2 linked regions of the Homo sapiens genome follow. The protein of the gene in region 1 interacts with the protein of each later gene in a biochemical or structural test. Each region holds a gene or a part of one and is shown on either strand. Other genes may lie near its edges.

Region 1 (3,833 bases):
AGAAGGGAGATGGGAACTTAGGAGGCTGCTGCAGAAATCTTAGCAAGAAGTAGTGGTGGATTAAATGAAGGCAGTGGCTGTGGAGGAGCAAAGAAGTGGATGGATTCAGAAGGTCTTAGACCCTTTTTGTTATTAGGATGACAGCATTATTTGTTGTTGTTGTTGTTTTTCTTAAAGCAGCATTTACCCATATCCTCCAGTTATTCCTGGAGGCAGGGAGATGGACTGGCTAACTTTATGTGTAGCCTTTGATTCTGTGTTTCTAGAGAAATGTCTGTGGTTTTGTACCCAAGTGAATCTGGCTGCATTCCCTTTGGCTGTATAGATGTACCCCTTAGGAAACAAGGACAGCTTTTCACTGTTACAGTTCTGCCACCTTGTTCTAACTGTCATATGCAAGCTATCTCAATATAATATACCAATTTTTTGTGTATATAACATAAGCACACTATGTACTTTGCTCAAAATGTTCTGTTACTGAGTACATATAATCTGTATACACATCAGCCGTACATAGGAGCAAATTGTATATTTCTTCTGTAGTCATAGAGGGAGTAGATATTAGGATTGTTGTTTTCTGCTCCTGAAATTTTTGTTCTGAGTTTTAAAGACATTTAGCCATCTGTTTATGACTTTAAAGTGAGTGTTCAAAGTGGAGGCTCTGAATGTATGTATCATTACAGATATATTGAAAGGGTATTGTCAATAATAAATGGCTACTATACATCTTTTTCGGCTGTTTTCTAACTTTTTAAAATGTGTAATGTAAGCAGGTAGTATTTTTAAGGAAGTGGAAATATATCTAATGTTAACTATGGATTTTTACCTGGATTATGTCTTTTAGGAAGAGACTTTAGGGTGCAGAGTTGCTTCAATTGCATTTAAAATAATCAATTTTTCCTTAAAGCAGCTTTTACCTGTATCCTTAATTTATAGATGATATGTATTTATTTCATATTATATTATAAAATCATTTTAATAAAAATGAAATGTTGGATTCATCGTTGAACTTCTTTTTAGAAATATAAATTAAGTTGAAATTAGTAGCTTTCAAAGTTTTATCATATATATTTTTTCCAGCAGATATAGTAGATGCTTACAAATATTTTAATTCACCTAACTCTTCTCTAAGAGAATGAATTGTATCTTCTCCCACCCACAGGAGACTGACTGGTTCCAGAGATTTCTTTTCACAAGACTTCAGTTTTCTGGCTGCAGTATAAGAATTAAAAGGGCTTTAGAGTTGGAAACATATATGCATATTAAGTTATTTAGCAGTTTAAACATATATACTTTTATTCAATATGAACATGAGAGTAGCAGTTGGAACAAAGACTCCATTTGTCAATTTTCATTCCTTTTATTTGTAGTTGAAATCCTGTTGGGAGTATGAGTAAATTTAAATATAAATAAAATGCAACATTCAATGTATTTCTACTCAGGAAACCAGTTACAATGTTATTAAGTTACAATTGCATAAACTAACCTTATAGGCCTACAGCAAATGCTAATACATTTTGACCTTGGTTTGTACTTGAGGGTGTTTTTTGGTAATTGCTGTCACCCTGACAGCCAACAAGGGGGACTCGCAAAGGAAAAGCGTATGAGAGCGATTTGCAGGGGCTCAGACTGCACATTGCGCTGTGGTGTTTTGATGTGTTGCCTACCTGTTTTTATTACTACCCACCAGCTCGCTATCAAGTAGTCCTTGACCTGGCTATCATTGATAGGTACACTAGTCTTGAGTAATTGGTACTTTAACTTATCAACTACTTTTAACCACTGTGTAAAAATGAAAGCAAGAATAGTACGTTAATAATTGCCAGGCATTCCCTTCTGTACTGTACATACAAATAGAATTTTTACACATGTGCCTGTATGTATATATAGGTTGAGTATCCCTAAATCAGAATATGTGAAATCTCAAATGTTCCAAATTCTGAAACTTTTTGAATGTGAGGTGACATTCAAAGGAAATGTTCACGGGTACATTTCAGATTTCTGGTTTTCGAATGAGGGGTACTTAACTAGTTTAGTATATAATGCAAGTATTTTAAAATGAGAAAAAATCCAAAATCTAAAACATTTCTGGTCGCAAGCATTTCCGGATGCTCAATCTGTACAGTATGCCTAATTAATTCATCTTCTTATAAAATTAACTTCTATATATAATGAGTTAAAGTTAAGAAAAATATTATTTACTTGTACAATCCATTGCCTCTGTACTTATGAAAATTGTCCAGAAAATCAGTCTTTGCTGACTAAGCTTTTTTGCATATGGACATACTCGGGCATGTTGGCTTTATATATCTTATCTTTATATACCTCAGCTAAAAGCTAACACCCTTTATATTTAATTTGGTATGCTAAGCTTTTGGACCGGCAGGCTTGTGGCCCATTACCAGCGATGGTATTCTCCAAGGTGTAGGGGATAGCAGAGGGCAGGTCTTCCTTTTTTTTCCTGAGAGAGCACCGTAGACATGTTTGGAATAGTTCATCACCACTGTAAAGCTCACAAAGAAGAGACATGCTCAAAAAATCACAATTTATAAGCAATAATGTCTTACATAAAATAAAGGTGATTTTTTTTTCCCTTTCAGATTTTGGGGTAAGTGCGTTCCTAGCAACAGGGGGTGATGTTACCCGAAATAAAGTAAGAAAAACATTCGTTGGCACCCCATGTTGGATGGCTCCTGAAGTCATGGAACAGGTAAAAAAACAAAAAAAGTGACTTTTTGATGGACATAGTACAATCGTACAGATCATTAATATGCTAACATTTCATTTGTATCTAGCATTTTAGTAGAATGCATAATGTAACTAAGATTTAATTCTCAATTGCTAGCTAATTAGCAAACTAACGTGAAAGTTATACATCAACAGCTGTGGATTTCTGACATGACATGGACTTGATGATGTGTAACATGCCTGCTGTATGATTGTGTTTTTTTCCTGCTTTCTTTCTTAGGTGAGAGGCTATGACTTCAAGGCTGACATGTGGAGTTTTGGAATAACTGCCATTGAATTAGCAACAGGAGCAGCGCCTTATCACAAATATCCTCCCATGAAAGTAATTACAATTGGAAATACTACATCGGGGTTGAAATGTGATTGGACGGAATCTGTTTTCTAATTCTCTTCAACATCTTCATTCTTCTCTTAGACCCGAGGAGAATTAATGGAGGAACGCAGCCAAGTTGAACATTGTCTGATTTTCTCAGTGGACAGAATAGGACAAAAGTAGCATAATTCCCAGCTTTGAAGCTTGCTTTATAGTCTCAGCACAGAGTTAAGAAAATAATGTTATCAGATTGGTTGATGGAGGTTGATAGCTATGACAAATGCTGGTCATTACTCTTTTGATAGCAGAACAACGCCAGGTTCCCAGAGAATATCTCAAAATAGATTATAGTGATGTCATCTCTGCAAATGGGTTTCCCAGATTTTCAGAGCTTTTTTTTTTCTTTCTTTTTAAGTGGACTACAACATTTTTACCCCTGCTCTTATAGTGTAATGTTGGCAACTGATCTGATATAAGTGAGCCACAGTGTTTTTAGGATGCTATTTTCACGTTTCTGCTCTTCTTTTAACTGGTTTATACCTCATTATTTCTCTTAGTTCTGAGATAGTGGTATCAGGGCTTATTTACCCAACTGGATTTTGTTTTGAGGCTGAAATAGTTTAGTGAAATTATAATGCTATTTTACATAGAGTATGGTCTATGATTGTTTCATGGTTACTGGAAAAATTTGGGAGGATTTATTTTAAAAACCCAAGAATAAAAAGTGAGTTTTACTGATTAAAAGAAGTAGTATACTCATATTGTAGAAAGT
Region 2 (2,559 bases), on another chromosome or scaffold:
GAATGAAAAGACCAGCTCTCCGGGGTGCCATTTCTATTAGCAGATGAGAGAGACACCCAATGGCTCAGCATCCACCCGGGACCACAGAAGAGGGGATGCTGGTGTGGGAGGACCCTGCGGCACTCTCGTCCTAACTCCTCTCTCTTCCTTTTCAGGGAGGAAGAGATAGTCGCTCTGGATCACCCATGGCTAGACGCTGAAAACCCACCTGGTTCCGGAATCCTGTCCTCAGCTTCTTAATATAACTGCCTTAAAACTTTAATCCCACTTGCCCCTGTTACCTAATTAGAGCAGATGACCCCTCCCCTAATGCCTGCGGAGTTGTGCACGTAGTAGGGTCAGGCCACGGCAGCCTACCGGCAATTTCCGGCCAACAGTTAAATGAGAACATGAAAACAGAAAACGGTTAAAACTGTCCCTTTCTGTGTGAAGATCACGTTCCTTCCCCCGCAATGTGCCCCCAGACGCACGTGGGTCTTCAGGGGGCCAGGTGCACAGACGTCCCTCCACGTTCACCCCTCCACCCTTGGACTTTCTTTTCGCCGTGGCTGCGGCACCCTTGCGCTTTTGCTGGTCACTGCCATGGAGGCACACAGCTGCAGAGACAGAGAGGACGTGGGCGGCAGAGAGGACTGTTGACATCCAAGCTTCCTTTGTTTTTTTTTCCTGTCCTTCTCTCACCTCCTAAAGTAGACTTCATTTTTCCTAACAGGATTAGACAGTCAAGGAGTGGCTTACTACATGTGGGAGCTTTTGGTATGTGACATGCGGGCTGGGCAGCTGTTAGAGTCCAACGTGGGGCAGCACAGAGAGGGGGCCACCTCCCCAGGCCGTGGCTGCCCACACACCCCAATTAGCTGAATTCGCGTGTGGCAGAGGGAGGAAAAGGAGGCAAACGTGGGCTGGGCAATGGCCTCACATAGGAAACAGGGTCTTCCTGGAGATTTGGTGATGGAGATGTCAAGCAGGTGGCCTCTGGACGTCACCGTTGCCCTGCATGGTGGCCCCAGAGCAGCCTCTATGAACAACCTCGTTTCCAAACCACAGCCCACAGCCGGAGAGTCCAGGAAGACTTGCGCACTCAGAGCAGAAGGGTAGGAGTCCTCTAGACAGCCTCGCAGCCGCGCCAGTCGCCCATAGACACTGGCTGTGACCGGGCGTGCTGGCAGCGGCAGTGCACAGTGGCCAGCACTAACCCTCCCTGAGAAGATAACCGGCTCATTCACTTCCTCCCAGAAGACGCGTGGTAGCGAGTAGGCACAGGCGTGCACCTGCTCCCGAATTACTCACCGAGACACACGGGCTGAGCAGACGGCCCCGTGGATGGAGACAAAGAGCTCTTCTGACCATATCCTTCTTAACACCCGCTGGCATCTCCTTTCGCGCCTCCCTCCCTAACCTACTGACCCACCTTTTGATTTTAGCGCACCTGTGATTGATAGGCCTTCCAAAGAGTCCCACGCTGGCATCACCCTCCCCGAGGACGGAGATGAGGAGTAGTCAGCGTGATGCCAAAACGCGTCTTCTTAATCCAATTCTAATTCTGAATGTTTCGTGTGGGCTTAATACCATGTCTATTAATATATAGCCTCGATGATGAGAGAGTTACAAAGAACAAAACTCCAGACACAAACCTCCAAATTTTTCAGCAGAAGCACTCTGCGTCGCTGAGCTGAGGTCGGCTCTGCGATCCATACGTGGCCGCACCCACACAGCACGTGCTGTGACGATGGCTGAACGGAAAGTGTACACTGTTCCTGAATATTGAAATAAAACAATAAACTTTTAATGGTATTTGCATGGGTGTCTTCTTTTGTGTTCCGGGCTGTAGCACACAGGCCCACATCAAGCGAGAGCCAGGTGTGCAGAGCAAATGTGACTCGGTGCCTCTGGGTCTCCAGGCAGGGCTGCCTGGCGGTGCCTGTTGGAGGGGGCATCCTCATCAGAGGGTCGATGGCTACTGAAGAAAGTGGAACAGAGGTAGTTGTTAGGGCACTGATTCTCTCACCAGGAAAAAAATATTTAGTGTCTCTGAAGACAAGCTTCCAAGTCTGTCTGTGTTCTGCTGTGTGGCTAGTGTACACACCCTGCAGATGTGAACCCAGGAGTCTTGGACGTGTTCCCCTTGCCACCTTTTTCTCTGAAAGCATGAAAGAGCGTGAAGCAATGTTTTACTTATAGTTACCTTTGGTTACAAGAATTTTTCTTCAAAAAGATAGACGAAAGTCTCTTTTGTTTTTTCTTTTTCTTTTGAGACAGGATCTTACTTTGCCACCCAGGTTGGAGTGCAGTGCTGCAATCTTGGCTCACTGCAGCCTTAACCTCCCAGGCTCAAGCTATCCTCCTGCCAAAGCCTTCCACATAGCTGGGACTACAGGTACACGCCACCACACCCAGCTAAAATTTTTGTATTTTTTGTAGAGACGGGATCTCGCCATGTTGCCCAGGCTGGTCCCATCCTGACCTCAAGCAGATCTGCCCACCTCAGCCTCCCAACGTGCTAGGATTACAGGCGTGAGCCACCGCACCCAGCCTTTGTTTTGCTTTTAATGGAATCAC

The links.
Region 2: of the proteins of STK39 (region 1) and MBP, one has a biochemical effect on the other in vitro, tested with the Homo sapiens proteins (one study listed by BioGRID).

What each region holds. Positions count from the first base shown.
Region 1 is NC_000002.12:168,139,526-168,143,358, reverse strand, and holds part of STK39 (STE20/SPS1-related proline-alanine-rich protein kinase), read left to right. Parts: intron 1-2,600; coding exon 2,601-2,710; intron 2,711-2,968; coding exon 2,969-3,070; intron 3,071-3,833. UniProt on the Homo sapiens protein: Effector serine/threonine-protein kinase component of the WNK-SPAK/OSR1 kinase cascade, which is involved in various processes, such as ion transport, response to hypertonic stress and blood pressure.
Region 2 is NC_000018.10:76,978,068-76,980,626, reverse strand, and holds the end of MBP (Golli-MBP), read left to right. Parts: exon of another isoform or gene 1-155; coding exon 156-200; 3' UTR 201-1,794; downstream 1,795-2,559. UniProt on the Homo sapiens protein: The classic group of MBP isoforms (isoform 4-isoform 14) are with PLP the most abundant protein components of the myelin membrane in the CNS. They have a role in both its formation and stabilization.